Regions from separate parts of the Homo sapiens genome. Here all the other regions are linked to region 1. Evidence: fine-mapped expression QTL. A gene starts in region 1. Each other region holds a variant in brackets. All regions are shown on one strand. Distances are between the middles of the regions.

The links. PIP is the estimated chance that this variant, and not a neighbour inherited with it, causes the effect.
Region 2: its variant is fine-mapped to the expression of CYBA in whole blood (INTERVAL, PIP above 0.99).
Region 3: its variant is fine-mapped to the expression of CYBA in non-classical monocytes (Schmiedel 2018, PIP 0.95).
Region 4: its variant is fine-mapped to the expression of CYBA in whole blood (TOPMed, PIP above 0.99).
Region 5: its variant is fine-mapped to the expression of CYBA in monocytes after Pam3CSK4 (Quach 2016, PIP 0.95).

Annotation. Positions count from the first base shown.
Region 1 is chr16:88,648,570-88,654,379 of GRCh38, reverse strand. It overlaps CYBA (cytochrome b-245 alpha chain), which reads left to right and starts at 3,327. Exons shown (of 6, transcript NM_000101.4): 1 at 3,327-3,424. The coding sequence starts at 3,367. MVD (mevalonate diphosphate decarboxylase) reads left to right here. Exons shown (of 10, transcript NM_002461.3): 9 at 972-1,080; 10 at 1,775-2,440. The coding sequence ends at 1,855. RefSeq lists enhancers at 2,728-2,877, 2,305-3,199, 3,200-4,093, 4,094-4,989 and silencers at 3,138-3,417, 3,568-3,717.
Region 2 is chr16:88,623,483-88,629,292 of GRCh38, reverse strand. It overlaps ZC3H18 (zinc finger CCCH-type containing 18), which reads right to left. Exons shown (of 18, transcript NM_144604.4): 11 at 5,231-5,335; 12 at 4,548-4,691; 13 at 4,026-4,091; 14 at 1,511-1,671; 15 at 1,174-1,373; 16 at 439-535. Among named protein-coding and RNA genes, the nearest start is that of IL17C, 12 kb to the left of the region's middle. RefSeq lists enhancers at 268-982, 983-1,699. The variant G/TG (reference allele first, on the strand shown) is at 2,909.
Region 3 is chr16:88,972,648-88,978,457 of GRCh38, reverse strand. CBFA2T3 (CBFA2/RUNX1 partner transcriptional co-repressor 3) reads left to right here and starts at 1,251. Exons shown (of 12, transcript NM_005187.6): 1 at 1,251-1,801. The coding sequence starts at 1,651. RefSeq lists enhancers at 830-879, 2,720-2,929, 2,582-3,126, 5,068-5,227, 5,408-5,477. The variant C/T (reference allele first, on the strand shown) is at 3,701.
Region 4 is chr16:88,602,928-88,608,737 of GRCh38, reverse strand. The region is part of intron 6 of ZC3H18 (zinc finger CCCH-type containing 18); the gene reads right to left. Among named protein-coding and RNA genes, the nearest start is that of IL17C, 33 kb to the left of the region's middle. RefSeq lists an enhancer at 1,087-1,587. The variant G/C (reference allele first, on the strand shown) is at 3,476.
Region 5 is chr16:88,323,182-88,328,991 of GRCh38, reverse strand. It overlaps a transcript of ZNF469 not described here. Among named protein-coding and RNA genes, the nearest start is that of ZNF469, 57 kb to the left of the region's middle. The variant G/A (reference allele first, on the strand shown) is at 3,552.

The DNA.
Region 1 (5,810 bases):
CACGCCTGCACTCCCAGATGTGTGCGTAAGTGTCCGACATTTTGAAGGAAAGGAGTCAAAGCCCCTGATTTCCTTCTTACTGAAGCGAGTTAGAGCCAGTCAAGGCGGCCGGGTGTTGACCCCGCCCCGGCAGTTGGGTGTCTTTTCTTGGGTGGGGTCCGGCAGCTGCATCTTGGCGCCACAGAGCCCCCATGTACGCCCTCCTCGGTGCACAGCTTGGCCCTGAACCGCCTCTTCCCCTGCGCTGCTCTGTGGGGGTGCCACAGAGCCCCCATGTACGCCCTCCTCGGTGCACAGCTTGGCCCAGCCTCCTTACGCCCCGGGGCTGTTGATTTCTTCCCTCCCGTGTTTTCATGGTGTCTTATTCTCAATGTGAGAGGCGCCTCCCATTTAAGGGTGTCTGGAAGCGTGTGGGGATGTGCGTCTGTCCCGGGTGGGAGCAATAACACCTTCTAATGGTCAGGGGCCTGCCCTGTGGGGTGGACTCAGACCCACACCCCAGGACTGCCCGCCTGGGAAGCACCAGGCTCGTGGCTGCTGCTCCGGGTGGGGCTTGCAGGCTTCCGCTGTTCTGCAGAACACGGTGACGAACGCACCAGCTTGAATTGGGCGCTTCCCTGAGCTGTTACCCCATGGGGCTTGGCAGCACCCTTGGCCAGATGTGGGTCCAGCCTGGGCATAGCTGTTTACCACATAACCTAAAATTTCCTGTCTCAGCCATTCGAGAGCATATAATCCTGCGGTGTTGAGGACATTCACAGGGTCATGTGAGCACCACCTCAAGCCACCTCCTTAACTTTTTCATCACCCCTAAAAGAAACCTGTCCCCACAGCAGCCACCTGCCGTCTCCCCCTCCCTGAGCCCTGACGGCCAGGAATGCACTTCCCATCTCTGGACTTGCCTGTTGTAGACTGTTGTAGACGCTTAGAGAAACGGATGCATTCACCGTGCCCCTGCCCTGCTTTTCCAGGTTTCTGAAGGGGCTGCAGGTGAGGCCGGCCCCTCTCTCAGCTGAGCTTCAGGCTGCGCTGGCCATGGAGCCGACCCCCGGTGGGGTCAAATACATCATTGTCACTCAGGTGAGGCCTGGGGCTCACCCAGTACCCCGGGGTTTCCTTTCCTGCCAGGGGGGCCCGCCCAGCCCCCAGGGCCCTTAAAGGCTAAGCGCGGCTCCCTGTCCCTACCGTGTCTCAGGCAGGAAGCCAGAACGCCTTTGTCCATTCATTTGCTCTCAAAGTGGACATTACAGGCCACTGGTGATGCTCAGAGCAGCAGGGCTGCGCTGAGGGTGGGAGGGTGAGTCTGACACAGGCTCCCAGGGAGACAGGTGGGGAGTATCAGACCCTTGAATAGGGAGCGCCTGGGGTGGGGGCTGCTGGGGTCCCTGGGACCCCCCCACCCCAACCACCCCAGCAGACCGGAGTTCCTGCCCTCTGACCTGCTCCGAGGGCCAAGCTTGCATCCAGTGATCACGGCCGCCCAAGCCATTGCCGCCACCTTCCTCTCAGGGGCTGCCTGTTCCCAGGCTCTGTGGTTCTCTGTCCCCCCTGTGACAGAAGCAGTGCCCAGGGCAGGGGGCTCGCAGCTGGCAGGGGCGGCTGTGCCTGCAGGAGCTGCGTGTGGGTGTCACCACTCAGGCGCTTTACCTTCTGACCAGGACCCACAGGAAGGGCGGGGGCACACCGCTACCCTCCTGTGTCCGGCCCTACAGATGCTGGGCACAGGATGAGGCGCTGCCATTCCTGGTGACCTGACATGGATTTCTATCCCCAGGTGGGGCCAGGGCCTCAAATCCTGGATGACCCCTGCGCCCACCTCCTGGGTCCTGACGGCCTGCCGAAGCCAGCTGCCTGACTGCCTCAGCAGGGACCGCATGCCGCTTGGAGAAGGGGTGGCCTCGCCGGAGCTAGGGAGCGGATGTGGTGGGCTGGCCGGACTCCTGGGACATGTGGGTGGTGGCTTGACCCCGGGCCCATGGGCAGCTTGCTGTGGGGCAGTGCAGGGAGTCCTGCGGCCGCCCAGGTGTCAGGAGAGGTCCCCGCCGAGTGCTTCAGCTGCCCTAAGCTGCACCAGCGCTTTGCCAAGATGGGATGGGGAGGGGGTATGAGAACTGGCAGAGCCTCGGTGCAGCAGGGCTGAAGGGCTTTCTCACCCCAGCTCTGGCTATGCCCAGTTCTCTGAGAAAGGAGCTCAGTGGGGAGGTGGTCCCTCCAGCGGACCAGGGAAGGGGTCACCGTGCTGGGAGCAGCCTCCTTGGGCCTCAGGAAACCACCAAGTGCCTCGGATGGTGGCTGCCCACGGCGCTTCTGCTGAGACCCTGCCCCCGGCCCAGGTGTCTCGGAGGGTGGCTGCCCACGGCCTGGGTGTGGCTGGAATGGTGGCAGGAGTGGGCACCAGTGCGGCCCCGGTGGCCATGGGGAATAAACCAGCATTGCTGCCTCCGGCCTCCGCCGTTTTTCTGTTTCGTAAACCAGCATCCCGGGGTTCCTGCTCTGAGTGACCCTGGCACCTGTCAGGGAGTCCAGGTGTGCCCCATGAGGGCCTGGGGGAGGGGCAGGCTGGGCAGAGCCACAGAGGGGCTCCCCTCAAACCCCACATTGGCTCAGGTGGGACCCTCAGGAGCAACCCCAGGTCTAAAGTCTTCCCATGGGCGCTGGGCTCACCACCCCCACGCCAGCCCCTGCCTCCCGTACCCAGGCCGGACGTGACGGGGCCGTCCCTGCATTCTGTGCTTTCCCAGTTGTACACATCCTGTCCCCTCCCTCGAGTCTCAGTCACAGTTCAGTGACCTGGTGACGGGAGGCCCCCTGCAGTGTCTGACCCAGGCCACGCCTGTGCCAGCCCAGAGCCAGGGGGAGGAAATGGGGGCTGGGCCTCTGGTCCCCATGGGGAGGCCACCCTTGTCCTTGGTAGCATCAGGGTGCAGAGGTGTTCCCGGGCTGTAGGGGTGACTCCCCCACCCCCCAAGGCTCTGGAGAGGCCGATTTGCTCAGGAAGCCGACCTTCACACCTTGTCCTGCTATTAATAGACGCCTGGTTGACACGGGACCCTCGGTTGGGTCCGGAGCATTGGGCAGGGGCACTTGTCAGTGTTTGAGAGCTGAAGTTTGGGAAGCCCTGGGGAAGCGCAGGAACTCCCCGCCTGGGCTGGGGCTGCCGGGCAGGGCCCCTCCTATGCCTCGGCGTGGCTAGAGAGGGCGGGGGCAGAAGGCTCCGGGACAGCCCTGCACCCTACAGATGCGGGTCTCCGCCCAGCCGCGGTCACCTGGGGGGCTGGGGGCGGGGCCTGGGCGGGGCGGGGTTCGGCCGGGAGCGCAGGGGCGGCAGTGCGCGCCTAGCAGTGTCCCAGCCGGGTTCGTGTCGCCATGGGGCAGATCGAGTGGGCCATGTGGGCCAACGAACAGGCGCTGGCGTCCGGCCTGAGTGAGTGCACGTCAGGGACGGTGGAGGCTGCAGCCTGGAGGGGTGTCCCAAGACCCCAGCCGGGACCTCGGGCTACTTACAGGGTGGGGAAGTGGGGCGCCAGGCGGGCCAGGCCGGGCCGGGGTCAGGCCAGGAGGGTGCGGGGAACGGGGGCGGGACCCTCAGGCCGCGGGCTGGAAGGAGGAGTTCTGAGACCCCCAGTAATTCCCTTGCAGACCCTGCGGAGCGCGGCGCCCCTCCCCCATTCCCTTCTCTCGGTCCCCCGACTCCGCGAAGGAGGAAGTTGCAGCGCAGGGGAAGAGGCGGTTCAGCCCCGGTGGTTTCCGGGGTCACCGCCCCGAAGCCCCCGAGTGGGGGCTCCGGCCTGGGCATCGGGAGAAGCTCCCCTGCCCCTCGGTAGCCAGCTGGCCTGGAGGTCGCTCTCCCTGGGCTTGGGGTGGGGAATGGGCTCATGCCCTGGGGCTCAGCCCTTCTCATCTGGAGTCTGCGCTGGAGGCGGTCTGAGATTTCACAAGGCGCCGAAACCACCCAGTGACGGCCCTGCCCAGCCCAGCTGCACAGGCACTTTGCTCTTGGGGTGGGATGGCACAGCCCCCAGTCACCCTCCTGTGCATTTGCTCAGAGGTTCTGGTGAGGGCAGCGGACTCCATTTGGAAATGGACCCTCTCGGGACCAGGGCCAGGGAGTGTCTGGCCCAGCACGGGTGAGGCTGGGCTCAGGCGAGGTCTGAGGGCAGAGGCACCACTGCAGCAGCTCCAGGAAGGACCTGCACCGGGGGAGGAGTGCCTGGGAAGGGCCTGGGGGCTGAGGGTGAGGAGGAGGGGCCCGCTGCCACCACTCCCCTGGGGCTCTGAGCGCCCTCCCTGTTGTCTGGAGGGTGCGTGGCAGCTGGAGTGGGAGCAGAGACCTCAGGGTGGGAGGGCTGGAGGACGGGGCCCTGCAGCCTGTCCTGTGCCCAGGAAAGTGACCGCCTGCTTCGAGTCAGCGGCCAAGAAGTCGGTGGGTCAGTTCAGACAGCTCTCCCCAGAGCTGCCCCGTGAGACTCACCCTGCCTGCCCCGCACTCCCTACAGGAAGTAGACGGACTGAGGGCACCCAGCTGGGAGCCAGGAGACCTGGGCTCTAGTCTGGCCTCCTGCTGAAACCCTCCAGGGGCTCCTGGCCCGAAGAGTTAGAGCCAGACTGGACGCCCTGCACTGCCCGCCCTGGCCTCCCGGCTCTCCGGCCCCCTCCTCCAGCTGCCGTGCTTCCTTTCTGTTCCTAGATCTCCTGAGCGTGCCCCAGGGCCTCGGCACAAGCTGCTGCTTCTGCAGAGCCTCATGGCTGTCTCATTTATTTCTCAATTCAAATGCCACCTGCCTGGGGAGGTCCTTCCAGACCGTGCAGCCCCAGGAGGCAGCTGGCCCGGAGACAGCAGGGCCTTGACAAAGAGTCCCCCCTGTACACAGCAGGTGCTCTGTAAATGTGGCTGGGTGCCAGAATACGTCCTCAGACCTCCCTGGTGGCACCAGCGGCAGCTTTGCACCCTCTTTCGGATGGCAGGCTCGGGACCAGGACGGTCCCCAAAGATGCATGGACAATTGGCTGAGTAGACTCAAGGACACTGCCCTCCCCTCCTCCGACGCAGACAGACAAACCCAGAGAGTTAATGTGTAGCTGGGCTCAAACCAAGGATAGGAAATCTTCCAACAAGACCATGTGGAGACAAAAACAGAATGGCTGGCAGGGCAAGGTGGCTACACCTGTAATCCTAGCACTTTGGGAGGCCAAGGCGGGCGGATCACGAGGTCAGGAGATCGAGACCATCCTGGCTAACACAGTGAAACCCCGTCTCTACTAAAAATACAAAAAATTAGCCGGGTATGGTGGCAGGCGCGCATAGTCCCAGCTACTCGGGAGGCTGAGGCAGGAGAATCGCTTCAACCTGGGAGGTGGAGGTTGTAGTGAGCTGAGATCACGCCACGGAACTCCAGCCTGGGTGACAGGGCAAGACTCTGTCTCCAAAAAAAAAAAAAAAAAGAAATAAAATAGTAGGAAGGACCAGGCGCCGTGGCTCATGCCTGTAATCCCAACACTCTGGGAGGCCAAGGCGGGCGGATTCCCTGAGGTCAGGAGTTCGAGACCAGCCTGGCCAATGTGGTGAAAACCCTGTCTCTAATAAAAATGTAAAAATTAGCTGGGCATGGTGGCGGGCGCCTGTAGTCCCAGCTACTCAGGAGGCTGAGGCAGGAGAATTGCTTGAACCCTGGAGGCGGAGGTAGCAGTGAGTCGAGATCGCGCCACTGCACTCCAGCCTGGGTGACAGAGCAAGACTCCGTCTCGAAAAAAAAAAAAAACAGTAAGGGGGAATATTGGACAATACCCCCCCAAAAATGTGCAGAAATAGC
Region 2 (5,810 bases), 25 kb after region 1:
ATGTTAGCCAGGCTGGTCTCAAACTCCTGACCTCAGATGATCTGCCCACCTTGGCCTCCCAAAGTGCTGGGATTACAGGCATGAGCTACCGCGCCCGGCCTAATTTTTGTATTTTTAGTAGAGACAGGGTTTTACCAGGTTGGCCAGGCCGGTCTGGAACTCCTGACCTCAAGTGATCTGCCGGCCTCAGCCTCCCAAAGTGCTGGGATTATAGGCGTGAGCCACCACGCCCGGTCCTGTTATTTTTAAACAAATATTTAAAACCTTTTCTTCGTTTTAGTTTTCAACACCCTAAATACCGACAGGCATCATCTGCAAGTCAGATGTTCTCTGGACCCTCCTCCTACTTGTTAAGAGCAATGGGGTCTCAGACCCAGCTGCTCCGCATCCCCAGGCTCCCGTCCCTCTGCCCTGCCCCCTAGGGGCTGGGAGGCTCACCTCGGTCTGGGGATGTGTTGGGCCGCTTGGCTGGAGGAGGGCTCTGCCTGTCCTTGTCTGATGGTTCATAGCGCTTCCTGCTTCCTTTATCAGCCGCCTGGGACAAGAGAGAGGCCAGTGAGGACAGCAGGGCCAGGAGCCAGAAGCCGTGTCCTCGCCCCAGAGGACATGGGTTCCTTGCCAGCAACCTGCTCTGCTCCCAAAGGTCCCACCACACACCCATGAGACCCCGTAGCCCTGAGTGAGGCCTCCAGGACCCGGACCAAGGGCACCCCCACTGTGCACTTGGGGCCCTTCACGTTCCAGGGGAAGCACCCTGCAGGCCTTCCTGCTCCCCACGGGGGCCACTCTAGGAGGACCTGGGACCCATGAAGCCAGGCCTCTTGCCCTTCCAGCAGAGGACAGGGATGTGTCCTGCTGAGGACAGAGGACAGGGACGGAGGCTTCCTGTATTGTGTTGAGACTGCATGGCAGGGAATGGCGGCCACAGGCACGAAGAGAACGCCCTCTCTGTTCAGAGAGAGGCCAGCAGCACCCAAACCTCCCCAGATGCTCACACTTCCCAGCCCAGGCCGGAAAGATGGAGTCTCGCTTTGTTACCCAGGCTGTGCTGACACCTGCAAGGCCCCACTCGCCCTCACTCAGGCTCCGTCCCCCAGGAGGAAGCTGTCTCAGGAAGCAGATGGACCCAGGCCTAGACGCTGGGGCAGCCACCAGGAGGGCCCTTGCCCTCACCTTATTCAACAGTGTCAACTTGATCTCCTTGTGGGCCACAAATGTGCCCTGCTGGGGCTGCCCGGGGGGTGCCTGCTGGGGTGTCGAGGGCTGCTGGGAGGACTTCCCCCCTGCTGGAGGTTTTGCAGATTTGGGTGGTTGTGTGGACGAATCCCTTTTCCGCTTTTCCTCTTTAACACCGTCTTCTTTCTTAGATTTTCCTACCAATGATAAATCCGCAGTCATGGGGGTACTGGTGATTTTCCCATGGCCACACCAACAGCCAGGCAAAGTCTGTGCTGATGCCGCCCTCCTCCCCCGGGAGCTGCTCCCCAAAGGTACCAGGGCTCCTGAGTACCTTTCTCCTTCCTGGTCTGGGCTGGGGCCGGGGACCGAGAGCTGGCTGAGGACACGGGGCTAGCCAGGTCTGCGTACATGTCCTCCGAGTCCACGCTGTGTGCAGAGCTGCTGCTCGACGTAGCACTGGACACTGAGGAGACGCTGCTCACGCTCAGGGACCTGGACACACAAGCACATCTCACCACACCCCAGCCAGACTGGAGGGAGGGGCCAGCAGGGGGTGCTCCATGGTCCACTTTTACGCAGTGTCCATTTATGGATCATGTACCCACGGAATGTGTGATTTTGGGGGGACACTGGGCAGTTTCAGGGTTACAAAGTAAGGGACGTCCCCATGGCTAGGCCAGGGCCCCATTTCACTAATCAATGTCAGGTTGCAGCCAGGCACGGCTGCTCACGCCTGTAATCCCAGCACTCTGGGAGACTGAGATGGGCAGATCTCGTCACGAGCAATGGGGTCTGAGACCCAGCTGAACTGATGTCAGGAGTTCGGGACCAGCTTGGCCAACATGGTAAAACCCCATCTCTACTAAAAATACAAAAATTAGCCGGGCGTGGTCGCAGGCGCCTGTAATCCCAGCTACTGGGGAGGCTGAGGCAAAAAAATCGCTTGAACCCGGGAGGTGGAGGTTGCAGTGAGCCGAGACCATGCCATCGCACTCCAGCCTGGGCGACAAGAGTGAAACTCCGTCTCAAAACAAACAAAAAACAAAACGAATGTCAGGTTGCTTTTTGGGAAGGGAAACAGGACTGAGCTGACTCAACAGCGGCAAGGATGGAATTTAAGCAGAGTCCCTGGCTTAGACAAAAGGGAGATAGCCTCAGCCCACAGGGAAATTAAAAACACAAGGAGCAATTCCGCAGTCTCAGGGAATGCCTGAGGAACACACGGCAGACAGACTGGAAACAGCAGGTCTGTAGCTTCACTGGCGTGCACTCAACACGGACACAAAGCACACAGGACTGGCACCTGAGTCTGCCCTGCCCATATGCTGCTCGAGAAAACACCAACCACGTCTTCCAGGTACATTGGGTACCGGAGCAAGGAACGGGGGAATGTAAGAGAACCATTTTTTTTTTTCAAAAGTCAGGTCTTTAAAACATTTCAGACTTATTAAGAAACATTTAGGCCAGGCGCGGTGGCTCATGCCTATAATCCCACGAGTTTGGGAGACCACGGTGGGAGGATCACTTGAGCCCAGGAGTTTGAGACCAGCCTGGGCAACACAGCAAGACCATGTCTCTCCAGAAACAAAACAAACAAAAGAAACAAAGAACTGTGACAAATATATAAACGACCTGCTGCCTGGAAATGAAAGAGTTCTATGCAAGGAATCTAAGGACTGATTTAATACTTTCTTTTAAAACAACTAAATAGCAAAAATCCTTTTTTTTT[G/TG]TTTTGAGACAGGATCTCTGTTGTCCAGGCTGGAATGCAATGTCGTGATCACAGCTCATTCAACCTTGACCTCCCAAGTAGCTGGGATCATAGGCACACACCACTATACCCAGCTAATTAAAAAAAATTTCTGGGCTGGGTGCAGTGGCTCACACCTGTAATCCCAGCACTTTGGGAAGCCGAGGCGGATGGATCACCTGAGGTCAGGAGTTCAAGATCAGAAACGTGGTAAAACCCAGTCTCTACTAAAAATACAAAATTAGGCTGCGTGCGGCGGCTCACGCATGTAATCCCAGCACTTTGGGAGGCCAAGGTGGGTGGAATGCCTGAGCTCAGGAGTTTGAGACCAACCTGGGCAACATGGTGAAACCCCATCTCTACTAAAATACAGAAAATTAGCTGGGCGTGGCAGTGTGCGCCTGTAGTCTCAGCTACTCAGGGGGCTGAGGTTGAATCCGGGAGGCGGAGGTAGCGAGATCGCGCCATTGCACTCCAGCCTGGGCAACAAGAATGAAACTGTCTCAAAAAAAAAAAAAAAAAAAAAAATCTTTTTCTGTGGAGATGGGGTCTATGTTGCTCAGGCTGGTCAAGTCCTGGGCTCAAGCAATCCTCCTGCCTTGGCCTCCCACGGTGCTGGGATCACAGGTGTGAGCCGCCGCACCTGGCCCACAAAGCTTTTCCATGTATTCTCTTCTCAGATGTTTTTATCGGCTTCCCCACCCCCTCAGGCCGGTTCCCTCGACAGGTGTGATAGGTCACGCAGGCCCAGCCTCTGCCCTGCTGGGCTGGAAGCTGCCGGCTCCTCCCCAGGTGCAGGTGCTCTCTCAGGGTGCTGGGCATCAAGTCAGCAGGGCAGAGGCACCTCCTCCTGACCTGAGTGCCCCCGAGTTTGTGAATCTTTTTTTGGTGGGGGGAGGGGGTCTTCCTATCACGAGTCCTGGCCCATTTTCTCCTGTGTCAAAGCTTCAACCGCAGCCTTCCACAGCCCCAGGGTGACTCAGATCCAGAAGGGCCCCAGCCCACCTGTGGGAGACAGCCCAACCCACACTGGCTGCTTCTGGGACTTCCTGGCCCCGACGGGGAGGGAGAAACAGAGGCACAGGGTGATGGGGATGACCTGGATCGGGAGCTGGAACCACTATAGCTGCTACCACTGCCACTGCCGCTGCCGCTTAGCGTCCGCCTGTAATACAAGCAACAGCGGGGCTCAGGGGGCGTGGCCTCCACAGCCCCTCGCGGCCTCCCCTCCCCACCAGCAGCCCTGTGAGGTGAGCCTCCAGACTGGCCTTGCTACCACCTTGGAACAGGGCCTGGGCCTGTCTTCCTTTAGGCTCAGTGTTTTGTCAAGATAAAAAGTACAGTCTCTCGGGGGCAGCACCTTCCAGTGCAGACGGGGCCATGGCGGGAAGGCCTGTGCTCCGTGCCACGCTGTCCCTTCCCCTTCACGCTCCAGAAACACAGGCTCAGGGAGGGGACAGGGCAGGTTCCCGGGTAAGGGCTCACTGGGTGCTGCTCGGCTAGGGGGCGCTTCCCACCACCTGGCTCTGGACCCTGGCACTCTGGATTTCCAGCAGTGCCAGCATCACAGTGGCACCAAGAACACGGAAAGCCTGAGGGCCCCGGACGCCGGAGTGCTCACCTCCTGGGGGGGGTCCTGGCTGGCCGCTCCTTCCTCCTGGCTTCCCGAGGGTCTCCTGGCTTGGTGGGCTCGGGGACAGGAGCAGTGGTTTTGGTGGCCTGTGGTGGGGCTGGAGGCGGGGCCGGCTTCTTCACTGACTTCTCTCTGTGAGACAGGGAGGCTCGAGCAGGGCAGGGCTGGTGGACGGGGCCCCGCTGGCCTACATCCCCTTTCAATGGACCCACAGCTCGGGGAACGACACTGCATGCCTGTGACGCTCGGTGAGCACGCTCGTGCCTGGACACGGCTCCCCACCCATCGGTGTCAGAGTGCTTGGGAACGGCTTCAAAGCCCCCAGCAGCCCTTCCAGGCTCCCCTCTAACAGGCAAGAGCTACAGGCACCGCCAGGCAGTGGGGAGAGCAGGCTAATAGGAAGACCCCTTAAGAACACCCGGCTGCTGCCGTGTCCCCAGGGCTGTGCTCTGTCCCCAGGGTTCCCGAGGGAGTGCTGCTGTGTAAGGGTGGCCCGTGAGAACAGGAGCTGTGCCCAGTGCCTCCCAGCCCAGTCACCCCCTGGGGCCAGCCCCCTGAGGCATCCTCACCTCTTTGGTCCCAAACACAAATGAGAGATAGAGACGGAGGGAGGAGGCTGCAGCCTGTGGAGGCCTGGCCGGCCAGGACTTGCCCACAGGCTGGGCACTCACCCTGCTTTCCCGGGCGGCGGGGCCGGCTCTCCCTTGGTTCTGATGGAAGGTCTATGTGGGGAAGGTGTTGGGGACGGGGACGGGGACGAAGAGAAGGACCGGGACCTAGGGGAGTGAACAAAGGTGTCGGAAGGGGCCTGGGGGTGTTTCTTCACCAGCCCAAGCCCACTGAGGACCCACCCAGACCCATGGAGAAGGCCACGAATTTCCATTTATGTGCCTCAGTTTTAACTTCAGTTCTGGACTGTTCTGTCATCTGCTAAAAACACAGGCCCAGAGTAGACCAGAGAGCGTGGAAGGTGTCAGCATCCACTGGCGGGTCCTCCGGGAGGCGAGTGTCACGTTCATGTGTGTGCAGGACAGGAGGAGACAGGCTCCTTGGCAGTGGGGCAGCAGCACAGCTCCCATAGAAACACCCACAGGACAGGGCTGGGTCTGGCCCCTTCCTCGGCCTGTCTGCGGAGGACTGGAGTGCCTCAACTCGAGGATCTCAGGCTGTGGCCCTCAGTGACAGCACGCATCTACACAAGGACGAGGGCCCGCAAGGCTGGTGTTTGGTGGGGGACACAGGACACGACCC
Region 3 (5,810 bases), 320 kb before region 1:
GATGGGCCCCGGGCTGGCAGGAATGTCCCCTCCAGCCTCAGTCCTGGGGGCAGAACGGCCGACCACCCAGGGCAGGGGAGGCCCCGGGTGGGCCTGGCGTCTGGGAAGTTCCCCAGCAGGAACAAACACATCCCCACTGTAAGCTGGACACACACGCTGGCATGCAGCTTGTTGTCACCAACTCGAGAAAGACACTCGACTATTGGGACAGGGAGACCCGGGACACCTGGAGACCCTGCGGGGAAGGAGTCGGCTTTTACTCCTGCACGGCTTGAATTATTAACTGCGTGCAAACGTGACCTAAAACTCAAATCAAATCAAATCAAAATAGCACAGATGCCCGTGAGCCGGCCCTGGGTCTGCGGGCTCCACACCTCTGGCCTGTCTGAGGCCGGGAAACCTCCAGCCATGGCATCAGAAAAGCCACCGAACCAGGGCTGCAGGGCCGAAGGGTCACTGTCCCCTCCCAGGAAGCTCCTGCCCTCTGACAGTTGTCAGGGAGCTTTAGAAAGTGGCTTTTTTTCCCAGCATCTGGGATGTGCCTCACTCTCTCAGCCCAACGGCCGCTAGAAAGGGGTCCTAGGACTCTCCCTAGGGTCTAAGTAGTCCCAAGAGTGCTCTGAGGTGGCTTCTGGAATTTCCCAGACTGGAGAAGCCACCTACCCCCGACCCCCGCAAACTCCAGGCTGCTCACCGGAGGCGGCCGCTGGGGCGTGGGGTGAGGGTCTTTCTGAGGCACCCCCGGAGAGTGGGGGAGCCCTGCTGTCTCCACAGAGGGCCAGGAGCCCTGTGCACGAGGCCAAGCAGAGAGAGAGGGTTTCCTTCCCAGCAGGCGGGAGGTACTTTGAGGACAGGTCAGGTGCCCAAGAACCCCGGAGCAGGGGCTGAGGAGAGGCTGGTCAGAGGCCCCGCCTTGCTCAAGGGCACAGTCAGCAGACACAGGAACACGGGCAGGGTGGCCCCTGGAGCGGGGGCAAACTAAAAGGGGTGCTGGGGAAAGCTCGGCTGACTGAGGGCTAGCGGAGAGGGAGGACACCCCCAGATACCCCAGGCTGAAGGAAGGGCCAAGCCCTGGGGGGAAGATGGGTGGGCGGGACAGGCCAAGGGCTCTGGGCCAGGATGGAGCTGCCCTCAGGCCTGCACACCTGCCCTGGGGCCGAGGAAACACATGCCCAGTGGCCACGCTGTAGGGCTCAGGGTGGGTGGGACGTCACCAGAGCTGCCTGGGAGGAGGAAGTTGTTGGAAGGTCAAACCGGAATGGCCCGAGGGAAGGCCGCGCAGGGCAGGGCCCCAGATGGTTCCTGTCAGGGAAGTGGCGGGCGCAGCTGCAGGCCTCCGGCCCCGGCATTATCACGGGGACACAGCTGGCTGCCTCACCCGCAGGCTGCAGGGAGACCTTCCCCAGCCTGCAGCCCCAGGCCCGCCCCGCGTCACATGAGCCCCAGGGCTCCCACCCCCTCCCCAGGGCAGAGGACACCCAGTTGGTGGCCGGGAGGGCCTCGGCTTTCCAGGGACAGAGGCCCAACTCCAGGACGCCCCAGCTGGCCCAGCCCCTCCTCTTTCCCTCAAGGCTGCAGGAGGTCGGGAAAGGCAGTCCTGGTAGAGGCCTGTCCTGGGCTCCAGGTTGGCCCCTGAGGGTGGCCCTCCTCATGCCGGCTTCAAGACTGAGGGACAGGGCAGCCAGTTCAGCCTCGGGATCCACCTGTGGCTCCATGTCCCAGACGCACCCTGTGCTGGAGAGCGGCCTCCTGGCATCTGCCGGCTGCTCCGCACCCCGGGGTCCCAGGAAGGGCGGCCCAGGTAAGAGGCTCGAGGGGAAGGTGGTGGGGTGGGGGCAGAGAGCGGCAGCCGGTGCCGGGGCTGTGACTCCTTAGAGCTTCGCGGGGCCTGCCCAGCTTAGTTGACAGTGCCGGCACGGATGGCCGTGTTGACTCACCTCAGATATCAACAGGGCCACCCCACAGGCAGGTCCTGCACAGCTGGGGCAGGTGGGCTGGTGAGGGTTTGGCAGGTGCCAGCCAGGTGCCCCAGCCCCACCCAGAGGCAGATGCTGGAGGCCGGGCTGCTCAGCCCCGTCTAGGAGGGTGGGCTGTGTTCTCCTGGGGGTGGGAGGGCCGCAGCCGGGAAGTGATGGGGGGGTCCTAGAAAGAGAGCCCTCCTCCTCCTGGGATGCCCTCCGGGTGTGACACCTCACAGCAGGTTGGATGAGGAAACTGAGGCCAGAGGGGAGGGCACTGGCCCAAGACCCCGGTGAGGAGGAAATGGACCCAACCCTGGGCCCCTGTCCGAGGAACGATTCCAGCCAGGGCAGTGGGGGTTTACGGGGAACCTGGGCCTGCCCTTCTGGGGGCTTCGGGCTCTGGGGAGGGGTCCAGTCCAGCAGGACGCCAGCTATTGCTGATACCCCCCACCCGAGCCTGCGAAGTCCCAGGACAAGGATCCCCGGACGCTGGGGGCTGCAGCTGCAGGCTGGTGGCCCCGATTCCCAGTGGCCCTCGTGGCCACACTCCCAGCAGCCGTCGGAACCTTCAGGAGCTCACAGTCTCCCGTCTCGCGGGGCTCTCACTGAGGCCGTCAGGTCCAAGGTCTGACTGCACCCCTGACACTCACACACAGAACCCGGGACCGAGGGGTGTCCCCATCTCTGGAGACCACATTCCCTGAGCAGGTCCTGGCGGCGGCTGCCTGAGGCTGTTCCCACCTGCAGCTGCCCGTGGGGCCCCAGGGCCATCCCCCACAAGGGCCCCAGATGTGAGCAGGAACTTCCCAACCCCGGGTGCCCGGAATGCAAAGGCCGGACCTCACCACAGCCAGTGCTACTGTTCGTTTCTCCCGAATGGGTGACTCAGAGCCACCTTCAAGGCAGCACCAGCCCACTGGCCCTGGCATCTGCCATCCCGTCCTCTCTGGAGCGGCCCTGTCTATCCCCTGGCGCTGAGTGGCCTTGGGCCGGGTGCTTCCTCCCTGGGCCTCAGTTTCCTCATGGTTCAGACCCTTCCGACCTGCTCCCCGCGTGAGAGCAGGTTCTCACCGGCGCGGAGAGAGACGGGCTCTGAGGCGCATGGAGAGCCGCCGCTTTGTTAGGATGGGGGCGTCTACTGTGGAAGGACGGGGGTGTCTACCGTGGAAGGAGGTTAGGGCCAAGAGGTGGCCCCGTGCCTGAGTCATGCGAGGGGCTGCTGGCTAGAGGCATGAAACAGAGGGTCAGGGCGGGCCTCTGACATGGCTGCAGGTGAGGAGCAGAGGGTCAGGGTGGACCTCTGACATGGCTAAAGATGTGGAGCAGAGAGGGTCAGGGTGGACCTCTGACATGGCTGCAGGTCAGGAGCAGAGGGCCAGGGTGGCCTCTAACACAGAGTACCCAGCCACTGTGCCCACCCCCAGGGAGCCCCTGCTTAGGGGCTGCAATGTGAGGAGGGAGCAGGGTCTCACTTGGGTGCGGGGTCCTGCCCCTGGCTTCTAGGGGCTTCTGTCCGTGCAACCACCCGGCCCTATTCCAGGGTACCCATGGGACAGCCTTAGCCACATCAGGCAGCAGAGTTACATGTGAATACCAGCACTTGGGGCTTCTCATCCTGTACCCCAGGGGCCTCCCAAGGCCCCCAGGGGACAGATGTGGGAGCCTTGTGATGCCAGAAAGCCTCGGCATCAAGCCTCGCCTGGCTGGAGGAGCGGGGGCCATGGGGGGCATGGGAACTG[C/T]GGGGGGTCCTGGACAGACCTGAGGGCACCTCAGCCCCACTGTGTGGCTGTCAGGCACACAGGCCTCCCAAGAGTTCCTAAAACCTTTGAGGCCTGAAAACAGGCCGATTGGCTTTAAACTCTGGGGAGAACAGTAATATTTCTAAAAGCTGAAGTAGAAGAACCTTCCTGTCTTTAGACCAAAGGCGTACTGAGCAGGGCTGTGTTGCTGCGCGTTTGGTGGCGGGCAGGAGAGACGTCTGTGTGCTGTGCAGGGGGTGGGAGGACCTCAGCCCCTCGTCTCCTCTGACAGCGTCCTGGGGGCTGAGGTGTAAGCAATCAGAAGATGGCCACAGAGCACACGCCGCCGTCTGGGGGCCGGGACCCCTTCCCTGGGCTCCTTCACCAGCCCCCTCACGCGGAGGGTCTGGATCCTCACTGACCCCTGGGCCCAGTGGTGCAGAAGGAACCCCTGAAGACGGTGCTTGCGGTGCTGGGTTTACGAGGCGCCCGCTGTGTGTGCTCGGAGCTGTGCAGGCTCTCACCGCCTTGTCCCCCCAAGCCCACTTTGCAGAAGAAGAGGCGGAGGTCAGAAAGGTGACCTGACTGCCTCAGGAGAGAGGGATGGGAACCAGGTCACCCGAGGAGGGTGCCAGGGACAGAGATTTTGAAATCCACCTGGCAAGTGTAGGCTGAGGCAGAGAAGTTTCAGTGCCATGTGCTGGGACCTCCATGGGGGAGAAACTGAGTCAGGCCTGCCTGGTGTCACCTTAGAGGGACGACGTGGGATCTCGGGGAGGTGGTGAGCACTATCAGTGGAGGGGTGCAGGCAAAGGCGGGCGGGTGTTATGGGGACCGGGCAAGGCGGGAGATGTTATGGGGACCGGGCAAGGCGGGCAGATGTTATGGGGACTGGGCAGATGCTGTGAAGGCACCATCCGTGCAGGAAGCTTGAGCCCTGGCTGGAGCCCACCTGGCAAAGGGGTCACGTCCAGAGCCTGCGGTCAGCCTGGGCTCCCTCTACCCGACCTTGCCCTTGGGGCTGGGCTTTGCCACCACTCACTCTCCATCCTCCATCCCCTCAAGTGGCCATCCAGGCCCAGCTGTCCTCTGGAATGTTGTGGGTCTGGAACGTCCTGGGTCCAGAATGTTCTGGGTCCGGAATGTTCTGGGTTTGGAATGTTCTGGGTCCGGAATATTCTGCATTGGAAGGTTCTGGGTCTGGAATGTTCTGGGTCTGGATTGCCCTCCCCGGGTGTTTCTATCTCCTGGGGCTGCAGTAAGGATGGGCTGCAAGCTGGCTGGGGGCTCAGAACAACAGAGGCTTCTGTTCTCACAGTGCCGCAGGCTGGAAGTCCGAAACTAAGGCGTCAGATGGCCGTGCTCCTCCAGGTCCTGCCTTCTCCAGGTCCTGCTGGTCCCAGGTGTTCCTGGGCTGTGGCCGCCGTGCCGCAGCCACTACCTCTGTCTTTGCAAGGCCGTCTCCTCCCTCCCAAATCTTCCTCTGCCTCCTTCTTCTAAGGCCCAGCCCACCCTAGGCCAGAGCTCCAGCCACTCACTCTGCACTCCAGGCGGTGGGACACAGGGAGGCACTGGAGAGGCTGCAGGCAGCCCCGGTTATGGGAGGTGCCCCATCAAGGGGGCGCGGTGGGAGGGGGAGTGGACATGAGCAGCCGGGCGGTCTCAGCCCGACTCCTCCTTCAGCCGCAGGCCCTGTGTCTGCTGGGCTTTGGAGCTGGTGGATCATGCAGAGCTCGGCCAGGGTGTCTGTGGGCTCCAGCCAGAGGCAGGGAGGTCAGTGTGTGCATGACAAGACGTCTGAGGCCACAGACAGACAGACAGGCAGCCCCAAGGGTGCCTGCAAAGGGGCCGGATGGTAGCTGTCAGACCTGTGTCTGTGAGCAAAGTGCCATCACAGCCATCATCCCAAGGTCCCCAGCACCCTCAGACCTCACCTCCCGCCTCCTGTCCCCCCTTTTGTTGACCACATGGTGTTGGGGGGCTCCATGTCGGGGAGCCAGCCTGGGAGTGCTGCTGTTACTGCTATCACAGAAGAAGAGACTGAGGTTCTGAGAGGCACACAGCAGGCTCTGCTGACCCTGTGGGGCAGAGGCAGATGGGCTGGAGATGT
Region 4 (5,810 bases), 46 kb after region 1:
CACAGATGATAAAAATGTCTAACAAAAATTCAATAGCCTTTTTGATAAAAAATACTCAAGAAAATAGGAAGTGAGGGCCAGGTGTGGTGGCTCATGCCTGTAATCCCAGCACCGTGGGAGGCCGAGGCAGGTGGATCACCTGAGGTCAGGAGTTTGAGAGCAGCCTGACCAACATGGAGAAACCCCTTCTCTACTAAAAATACAAAATTAGTTGGGCGTGGTGGCACATGCCTGTAATCCCAGCTACTCAGGAGGCTGAGGCAGGAGAATCACTTGAACCCAGGAGGTGGAGGTTGCCATGAGCCGAGACTGTGCCATTGCACTCCGGCCTGGGCAACAAGAGTGAAACTCCGTCTTGAAAATTAAATAAGAAAAAAAAAAAAGGAAAGAAAATAGGAAGTGATACTTTAGCATGATAAAAATATACTGACACACTTTGGAACAAAAGTCAGCACCTTACTCACTGGGGAATAGGAGGAGCTCCCCCAGGAGTCTCCGCAACCACCTGTCCCTGTGTGGAGGCACCCCCTGACTGGACAAGGGGAGCCCACTAGAGGCACAAGAACACGAAAACAAGGAGCAAAACGAGCTCAGATTTGCAAAATGATATGATACTATACATGAAAAACCCAGAGACTTGATAAAGCCAATTCAAACAAACAATGAAGAAACTTGGAAAGGCAGAGGATAAAAAAATTAACATAGAAATCAGTGTCTTCACAGACACAGATTATAACCAGTTAGGAGGCAGAGTGGAGAAAACCGCATTTACAATAGCAAGAAAGAAGAAAAAAGTACTTAGGAATAAAATATCAACACATTTCACCAGAAATGTGCAGAGCTGATTCCTGAGAGACACAAAGTGTGTGTGAATAAGTGGGGAGACGCCTGAGAGACATGAAGCGTGCGTGAATAAATGGGGAGACGCCTGACATGAAGCATGTGAATGGGGAGATGCCTGAGAGACATGAAGTGTGTGTGAATAAATGGGGAGATGCCTGAGAGACATGAAGTGTGTGTGAATAAATGGGGAGACGCCTGAGAGACATGAAGCGTGTGTGAATAAATGGGGAGACACGTGACATGAAGCCTGTGAATAAATGGGGAGACGCCTGAGAGACATGAAGCGTGTGAATAAATGGGGAGACGCCTGATACAAAGTGTGCATGAATAAATGGGGGTTTTGAAACCTGACACAAAGCGTGCATGAATAATGGGGAGACGCCTCTTGCACTGGGAGAGCGCAGCTCGGAATCGCCCACAAGTCAGTCCTTCCTACACTGACTGATAAATTTAACACAATCCCAGCAAAAACACCAATGAGCTTCTTTAAGGAGCCAGACAAGCTGACACCCAAGTTCACATGAAAAATCGCACCCCAAGAACAGCCAAGAAAACCCTGGAAATGAAAAGACACGCCAGACACGCCCTCTGAGACATTAAACATCCTAAAAAGCCTGTATAATTAAGCCAGTGCCATCGCAGCACATGAAAACCGGCGGCCAGAAGGAGGAGGCAGGAGGTCCAGAGGCAGACCCAGGCACGCCCAGAGAGGTGGCATCTCAGGGACAGAGGGGATTCTTCATTGAACAGGGAGGGGACGACTGTCCAGCTGCTGGGAAGGTCAGGCTCTCTTCCCCACTGCGCACAGGGTTGGGGGGGGCCTGCTCTAAACTCCTGGCGGGGCCCACAACTCTGCATCTCCTTTCCTGTGGAGCAGAGGAAACAAAGTGTACACTAGCAATAGGAGGTCCCTGGACGCCCCTCCAGGGTATGTCTCAGCCACAAGCCAACCCTCTGCTTCGGGTAGACTGGGTGGGAACCTGAGGCATCATGGCTTGAGGTGGCTCCAGCGATGGGTGGCTACGAACACCCTCGAGGCCTCCTCAACTCTCCACATGGCCTAGAACTGGCTCTCCCAAAGGACACAGCTTCAGTCCGTTCCCATCAGTCGGACACCGTTCAATCTAATGTGCACACTACTCAAATCACACTGAATTATAACACTCAGGAAACATTTGTAGAGACCTGTGGCAATATGACATCAGGCTACATAAAAACGAAGAGGAAGCCTGGACAGCACGCGAGACACCGTCTCTACAAAAAACACATCAGCAGCCAGGTCTGGTGGTGCATGGCTGTGGCCCCCAACTACTCGGTGGGCTGAGGCTGATTGCGTAAGCCCAATAGGGTAGAAAAGCCTTTCCCAAAATGTGTGAGGCGTGTGTTCTCTGACAAGAGGACTGTGCCGGCAAATTTGTTTTTGGGAAACTGTACTTAAGCAAAATGAAAAGGCCTCTTTCCTGCAGGCTTTCTGGAAGTCGTGGATGAGCGGATAGGAATGAGGCACACAGCATTTCCTCAGCGTGGCTGCCTCGGAACCATCTGCTCCGCAGCATGCGTTCTAGAGAACGTGTCAACACAACACGCCACCAGGAACTGCAACCATGCCAACAACGGACTCCTCAGCACCATCCTGAAAAATTCTGAAACACTCTTGAAATGAATTTGGAAGGTATTTAATTCAATTTAAAAATAAATGCTACTGGGCAGTATCATGGTATGCACAAACTCTTCCCCAACTGTTTTAGGGAACCCAAAATGTTAATGGGCCTTTTGAGAAAAGGGTTCTGTGGTGAAGCAAGGTTGGGCAAAGCTGGCTCGCAGCAACTGGGAGGCTCGCACCTCGTTCTGCAGTCACCACTTAACCAGCCAACACCAACAGTGTCCTGTGCACACACGTGGAATCTGCACTCCAGAGGCCCCGCGTCCCCAGAGGTCTGGGCAGCGTCAGACTCAGCACTGGCACGTGGAGTGGACCTACTCCTCGCTGGAGAGGAGAACCCGAGGTCCTGGCTAAGGGGAACCATTGGACATGCCCATCAGGGGCAGGTGGTTTCTGCCCACAGCCTTGCCCAGGGAGAGGCATGGCAGGTGAAAAGTCGAGCAATTAGAGAACGTGTAAGACAGAAGTTTGGAGCTTCGAGATCACTTTGTTTAACCATTTCATTTCAGTGACAAGGAAACTGGATCTCAAAAAGTACTAGGAAAAAGTTCTAAAATGTCTAACACTACTCACTTTTAATCTAAGGGTTATGCAATATTACACAATGAAATGCAACTTGCATTTGCACAATTCAGGTTGAAATCGTGCTGACCTCAACCCAGGTGGAGGGAGGCTGTGCTCTGCAAAGGGTGGGAGTCAGATGCTCACGTGTCCCTGCTTGCTGCAGAGACCCAAGGTGAAAAGGAGGGTCCCAGGCAGCTCACAAAGGGAGCAGCGACGCAGCCCCCTGCTGCCTCTTGCCCTCACCCCAACCCAGCATGGTCGACCTGGTGCCCACCTGCCTGTTGCCCACGTTCCTGTTGCAACGCTGGCCACTGAAAGTGCAGGCAGGGGAGGAGGTCCCCAAAGGCATGCAGAGGCCACAGGCAATGCCTGGGCACCCATACATCCATCTGCCCTGAGTCTGTG[G/C]GACTGTGGGCTTACCCATGTGGAGCAGGCCCTGTCTTACTCTCCAGGTAGCCCAACCCTCCCTCCCTGCTCACTCAGGGGGCTTCCCCACAGGGCACCAGCAAATCCCAGGTAAAAGCCACTTGTGCTCTCTCAGTTAAGCATCTGGGACAAAGGAGGTGCTGGACCAGCATCTGGTAGACCTGTTACCTGAGGAAAGGGAGTGTGCTTTTTGAAAATTACTGTTCTGTTTCCTCTGTATCCCAGCCTGACATCCTACTCCAAAGAACAGCAGCCTGCACCTCCGCCTCTAATACACCGGCACTGCACTACTCTCTGTGCTGGGGGCGTATGGGGAGTTGGCAGGGGCCCAGTCCATGGCCCTGGCCATGGCCTGACAGCCTGACTCTGATTTAATCAGAAACTCTGTTCACGGTGGGGCTACTACTGATGACCGCATTTCTCACAGGTGACGTCCTGTGCGCACTAGAGGCCCTTGTGTCTTTTGGGTCACATGTCCCTATTAGACTTGTAGAATATTCTGGGCACAGCATCCCCAGGAGCCCTATGCAGAGATGACATTTCTTTTTTTTTCTTTGAGATGGAGTCTTGCTCTGTCGCCCAGGCTGGAGTGCAGTGGCGCCATCTCGGCTCACTGTAAGCTCCGCCTCCTGGGTTCACGCCATTCTCCTGCCTCAGCCTCCCGAGTAGCTGGGACTACAGGTGTCCGCCACCACGCCTGGCTAATTTTTTGTATTTTTAGTAGAGATGGGGTTTCACCATGTTAGCCAGAACGGTCTCAATCTCCTGACCCTGTGATCTGCCTGCCTCAGCCTCCCAGAGTGCTGGGATTACAGGCGTGAGCCACTGTGCCCGGCCGTCATTTCATTTCTTAATGTCTTACATATGTGAGAACTTTTTTTTTTTTTTTTGGAGAAAGAGTCTCACTCAGTCACCCAGGCTGGAGTGCAGTGGCACGATCTCACTTGCTGCAACCTCCACCTCTCGGGCTCAAGAGATTCTCCCACCTCAGACTCTTGAGTAGCTGGGACTACAGGTGCGTGCCACCATGCCCAACTAATTTTTGTATATTTTGTAGAGATGGGGTTTTGCCATGTTGTCCAGACTGGTCTTCAACTCCCGAGCTCAACTGATCTGCCAACCTTGACCTCCCAAAACACTAGGATTATAGACATTACTAGCTACTGTATCCAGCCAATATGTGAGGTTTTATAAGTCAGATGGTACCTGAACAAAGTGCTTGAGGTGGTAGAAACGGAATATTTAAAGCTGCGAATCAGAGTGCGTCTGTCTAGCAAAGTATTATTATTATTATTATTTTAAGAAATGGGGCTGGGCACGGTGGCTCACGCCTGTAATCCCAGCACTTTGGGAGGCCAAGGCCGGTGGATCACAAGGTCAGGAGATCGAGACCAACCTGGCTAACATGGTGAAACCCCATCTCTACTAAAAATACAAAAAAAAAAAAAAAAATTAGCCGGGCATGGTGGCAGGCACCTGTAGTCCCAGCTACTTGGTAAGCTGAGGCAGAAGAATGGCGTGAACCCAGGAGGCAGAGCTTGCAGTGAGCCCAGATTGCGCCACTGCACTCCACGCTGGGCGACAGAGCCAGACTCCGTCTCAAAAAAAAAAAAAAAAAGAGACGGAGTCTCGCTCTGTTGCCCAGGCTGGAGTGCAGGGGCATGATCTTGGCTCACTGGCAACCTCCGCCTCCCAGGTTCGAGCAATTCTCCTGCCTCAGCCTCCCAAGTAGCTGGGATTACAGGTGCATGCTGCCACGCCCTGCTAATTTCTTCTGTATTTTAGTAGAGATGGGGTTTCACCGTGTTGCCCAGCCTGGTCTCAAACTCTTGAGCTCAGGCAATCCGTCCGCTTTGGCCTCCCAAAGTGCTGGGATTACAGGCGTGAGCCACCGTGCCCGGCCACAAAGTATTATGTTTACTAAGTGATCCTGCTAGGTCAGTTTTTAATTCCAAAAGAGATATAAAGAAAAAACAGGCCAGGTGCGGTGGCTCACGCCTGTCATCCCAGCACTTTGGGAGGCCGAGGCAGGCAGATCACGAGGTCAAGAGATTGAGGCCATTCCTGGCTAACATGGTGAAACCCTGTCTCTACTAAAAAATACAAAAAATTGGCTGAGCGTGGTGGCGGGCGCCTGTAGTCCCAGCTACTCGGGAGGCTGAGGCAGGAGAATGGCGTGAACCCAGGAGGCGGAGCTTACAGTGAGCCAAGATGGCACCACTACACTCCAGCCTGGGTGACAGAGCGAGACTCCGTCTCAAAAAAAAAAAAAAGAAGGAACAACAATTTTCTTGTCCTTTATGTCCTCAAGACT
Region 5 (5,810 bases), 330 kb after region 1:
TGAACGTCGGGACCCCGTGGAGAACATTTAGGGCCCTGACCCTTCTTGCTGATTCGGTTTGACTCTGCTCCCTCCTCGGCCTCCTCCGCTTCCTCCTCGGCCTCCTCTGCTGTGGCCAAACTGCGTCTCCCCCACCCGCCTGCCCCAGCTGTTTTCTCTGGACACCTGGAATCCTCTCTGGTTCCTGTGTGGTGCTCACTGTGTGGGAAGCAGCCCTCCCTAGACTGGGCGCCTCTGTTGCTCACACCGCACCCTCTCCCATTGCACTCAGCTGTGTGTGCACATCCCAGCCCCCCGGCTGGAACGCTTGAGGGTTGTATCTGATTTCTTCTGGTTTTCCTTGTCTGGTGCATTTTGGGAGCCAGGGATGGAGGAGATCAGTGCGTTGGAGAAGAACCCGGGCCCTGGACCCCACAAAGATCCATGTCAGGCCAGGTGCATCGGATCAGCTTCCCCACAGAGCACACACTGATGGTGTCTTGCACTGGGGCCGTGGCGTTTCAGGTCCAGCAGCAGAGCTTCGACGGTAGCCATGCGGCCAGGCCCCGGCTGAGAACTGCCATGGCGTTTTCCTGGGGAACCTCCCTGGAGGTTGTGAAGAAGGCACTGCTATCATTCCCATCACACAGGTAAGGAAGTGCAGGCTGGGAGCCGTCATATGGTTCAGCCAAGGTCACACAGTCAGCAGCAGAGTGAGAATTTTGTTCCTCTACAGGCATTTTAAATACACCTTTAAGGCAGAATACAGTACACGTGCAGAAAGCACCAAGACTGAAGTGTCCGGCCTGGCCCATGACATAGCGTGCGTCTGCCTGCACAGCAGCCCCGGGCGAGAAGCACAGACTCGGCAGCTCCTCCTTCCCTGGGACCTGCGGATTCCTCGACCTCATCCCAGCTTTAGGACCGTGGCTCCCATGGCGTGTGCCCTTCTGTGTCTGTGGGAGTCGCCGTGTGTGCCGGGAGCTGCTGCTCTCCTGCCTGGGCAGCAGCATGGGTCGTGCATTCCCCATTGGCTGGGACAGCAGGTGGGTGTGCAGCCGTGATGGAGCCCGGCCGTGAAAGTGTTTCTGGTAGACAATCTCACGTTTCTGGTTTCTGCTCTGCTGGGTGTGTTTCCGGTGGGTGTGTGGGCCCCAGCTGAACTCGGGATCCGGCCGGTTTTCTCAAGCAGCCGGGCCTAGTCAGCTCCGACCACACTGCGGCCTCTCCAGCTCCTTCCGGATGACACCTGTGGTGCGGGGTCTAAGCATGGAGCCCAGGCTGCCCTGTCAGTGCTCAGTGAGTGTGCACGGAAGGTGGGAGGGGAGAGGGCGGTGGAGGAGCGGAGAGGAGGGAGGAACAAGGAGGTGGCCCTGGAAGCACTCAGCCCTGAGGTACGGAGCACGTGCCCTGTCCTGCTGCCGGTGACGCAGCCCACCGTGAGCACAGACCCCCCCCCAACCCCAACGTGATATGTTGAGGATGGCACAGGCCTGGCCCCTAGCTGGCCCTGGGAACCGCAGATGAGAACATTTCAGCACCCACACCATGCTTACGCCCTGGGATGGGGCTGCCTACCCGCTTCACAGGATGTGGCCTGCAGCCCACCTCGTCCAGGGAAGCAGGTGAAGGTGCATCTACCAAAGCCAGGTGGCAGGGGTGCTGCACAAAGGAGAGGCGAGGCCGGGAGGACCAGCGTGGCGAGGCGGGGGCTGGCGTGAGGCTGAGTGGATGGAGAGGCAGACCCAGAGAACCAGTGCCGGGGAGGCAGGGGCTGGTGTGAGAAGCCCCAGTGGTGCAGGCCACAGGGTCCCACAGGCTCTGGAGAGGCGGCCACCCGGGGCCTGGACCTTGTGCCAGTACGAGGGACACTATTTGGGATGGGGGATGGCCCCACTCCTGGGGTCCAGAGTGGCGCTTCTCCTGAGGTCCCACAGCAGATGCTGAGGACAGACCAAGGACATCAGGACCCTCCGCCCATCAGAGAGGCGGGGCCGCCCTGACCCAGGAGACAGCTCAAACCAAAGACAGACAGACAGGAGGGAGAGCGACGGGGAGGGAGACAGGGACACAGGCCGAGAGAGGTGGGGGTGCTGCTCCTGGGCCCCGCTGCCAGGTGGGCATTGGGTACTCTGCCCAGTTTTCAAGAAAATGAAGTGCAGACAAGGCAGCCATGGCTGAGTCAGGAAAGAGCGGGGGGGTCAGGACCGGCCCGAGTGCTGCCCTGGCCAGGGAAGGCCTGGGTGTCACCCTCTGATCTGGGATTGTTCTGGAAGGTCTCTAAGGTGCTTTCACAGCGGGGGTCCCATGAGTCAGTGACGTTAAAGCAAACACCCCAAACCCGAGGCCTCCATGTGAGTGCCTGCGTCAGGCACTCTGGTCCTGACCTCCATGTGAGGTGGCTGGAGGGTGGTCCCTGGGAAACATGCGGTGTCCTGCCCAGCAGTGTCACTGCCCTGGGCCTTGGGTGCTTTAATAAAGTGGTTCTGGATGTCCCCGAGGCCCAGGAGCAGCAGAAGCTGCAGTCCCTGGAGAGTGTCTCGAAGTGTATTAGACCATTTTCATGCTGCTGATAAAGACATACCTGAGATTGGGCAACTTACAAAAGAAAGAGGTTTAATGGACTTACAGTTCCACGTGGCTGGGGAGACCTCACAATCATGGCAGAAGGTAAGGAGGAGCAGGTCACTTCTTAAATGGATGGCAGCAGGCAAAAAGAATGAGTTTGTGCAGAGAAACTCTCATTTTTAAAACCATCAGATCTCATGAGGCTTATTCACTATCACGAGAACAGCATGGAAAGAGCCACCCCCGTAATTCAATTACCTCCCACTGGGTCCCCTCCCACAACATGTGGGAATTCAAGATGAGATTTGGGTGGGGACACAGCCAAACCATATCACAAAGGCTCTGAGACCAGGACATGTCTGTGGCCCATTGCTGGGGCCTCTGGGTTGGCAGCCCCTCCTCTCTGCCTACAGGATCACACTGGCTGGGAGTGGGGAGGGGGCGCAATCACAGGCACAGTGGCCACCCCTGGACTGACTGACAGGTGTTGTTAGCTCTATTGCTCACAGTGTACAGCTGAGGAAGCTGAGGCTAGAGAGGAAGTGGCGTCCTTCAGGTCTAAGGGGGCAGAGCACCGATCCTTCTGCCCTGCAGCCCCATCTGGGATGCGTGGAAGAAAGGAAGGAGGAAAGGGAGGAAGGAAGGAGAAAGAGGGGAAGGAAGGACCAGGGTAGCCGTCACACGGAGCATTTGAGTGGCAAGGCCCTGTCTGTCCTGGCCCCACTGCAGACTTTTGGGGTGACATTGAACAAGTCACTTTCCCTTAGGGGGTCTCACAGGCCACAAATTGCATGAGGGATGGGACCAGGAGCCCTAAGTGGCAGAGGCCCTTCCAGCTCTACCACCCTGGGACACTGTGTCCTGGTGTGGGTATCAGTGTCATTTCTGGCCATGCTGGGCTTGGCGCCACCACACATAGTGCCCCTGGCTGCAGTGGTGGGGCCACGCCTATCACTGACCTGTGTCCTCCGGGTCCCCTGGGCAGGGTACTCAGCGGCTGCCCC[G/A]CCTTCAGGCATGAATTGGGAAGAGTGATGCTCTGGGTGGAAATTGTGCCTCTCCCACTGTGACCCTGATGGTTGCCCCAGAAGCTGGCCACCAATTGTGCAGTCTGGTGGGTGTCCTGGGTCTGAGCCCCTGCGGCCCCCCGGGGTGCACCTCGGGCAGCTTACGGAGCCTGTAGGGACCACCTGGAGTGTGCCGGTGAGGACTTGAGGCCCTGTGTATGTCACAGCTGCTGTCGCGACCACCTGGAGTGTGCAGGTGAGGACTTGAGGCCCTGTGTATGTCGCAGCTGCTGTCGGGACCACCTGGAGTGTGCAGGTGAGGACTTGAGACCCTGAGTATGCCGCAGCTGGATGTGATCTCAACCAGAAGCTGCTGGAAGGATATTTCCCAAGGGCACCTCCTCCCTCTCTCTTTTCCTCCTGCTCCCACTGGCTGAAGTGCTGGATCCCCCTTCACCTTCCACCATGACTGTAAGTTTCCTGAGGCCTCCCCAGAAGCAGAAGCTACCATGCTTCCTGTACGGCCTACAGAACTGTGAGCCAACCCTCTTTTCTTTATAAATTGCCCAGTATCAAGTATTTCTCTATAGCAGTGCAAGAACAGACTAACACAGCTTCCTCCAGCTGCCCCCTCTGCCCATCAGCATAAGACACACCCACCGGCACCATGACAGTTTACAAACGCAATGGCAACATCTGGAAGGTGCCGCCCCCTTTCTAGAGATTTCTGAATAACCTTCCCCTTAATTCGCACATACTTAAAAGTGGGTATAAAAACAGCTACAGTCCCTTATGCACTCACCCTGGCGCACTCCCTGTGGGTTAGCCCTGCTCTGCAAGGAGCAGCAACTCTCTGTACACGGCCGCTTAAGTAAACCTGCCTTCCACCACCAGCTGGCTTTCAAATTCTTTCCTGAGTGAAGCCAAGAACCCTCCCGGGCTGAGCCCTGGTTCTGGGACTCTCTGCATCACAGCCATAGGAGAGGACAGCACTGAGGCCTGGCCACACGTGTGTTCACACCTGAGAGCTCTGGGGAGGTCAACATCCCAGACGGCACAGCTGTGACACAACAGCCCCCCACATCCTTCCACCCACCTCCCATAAGGGGTGTGTGTGGGGGTCTGCGTCTCTGCCTTTGAATCTGGACCTTTTTACTTCTTGGCCAAAACAGAATGCTGCAGAAGTATTGCTCAGAAAATTTCAGGGCTGGCGGTCCGAAACTGACAGCCTCTACTTCCTGCCTCTTGGGACCCAGCCCTCATGCTGTGAGGAAGCCCAAGTAGCCCCGAACAGGCCCCGTGGGGAGGCGCTGACCACAGGCCCCTGGCCAGCCATGTGGTGTGCCATTTTTGCGGCGGATCTCACCCCAGCCCAGCTGCTCCAGCTGAAGCCTGTGTCACTGAGGTGAGCTGCTGCCCGCAGGCCCTGACAACCATTGATTTGTGAGCAAAATAAGTAACTCTGCTTGGTTTTAGCCACTAAGTTCTGGGGTGATTGTTCTACCATGGTAGGGAACTGGGAGGGGTGAAATGGTGGGCACCCCCACGTGCCTCCTCCGAGTCTCCCTGTCACCATCTGTAGGATGGACACACAACACCCTTTTGCAGGGGGATGGGGGCACGGAGTGGGAGACTGCACAGCTGCGGTCTGGCATGTGCCAGGGGCAGAGTGGGCCCCTGGTCTGTGGGACCACGGCCATTACCGGTCATGGGCAACACTGGGTGTGGGAGTCCCCCTGCCCACTTCTGCCACTCAGTGGCAGCCCCCCCAATACCTCTACACTGTCCACCAGAAAGTGGGGGTCAGGGAGATCCTGGCTTTGCCAAGAGGAAGCCTGGCTGCCCAGGCCTTCCCACAGGGTCCTGAGGCTCTTGGGACCATTTCCAATAGTGAGGCCTCCCTCCCATGCCCAGGGCCCTCTCACCCCACAGAGATTTCGCCAGGGCCTGTCCTGGGGCCTTTGCTGCTGAGTGATGTCAGAAGTGATCAAAACACAAATGCTACAGAGAAGTGGGAAGGAAGAAGGTGGTTTCTGGCATTAGAGTTTGCTAGGTAAGCAGCCATCATCTTGGCAGCTGTATGTGGCCCTGTCAGGACAGGTCTGTGGCCCTGTAATCCACTGAGCGGCCTGCGAGGGTGTCAGGGCCTGGGACACGTGTCCCCAGCCTCCCAGGGGCATGGCACTGCACCACCAAGGCCTCCGGGGCCCCTCCTCGGAGCTCTGCAGAGCCTGGGGCAGACTGCGTGGCAGAAGGCAG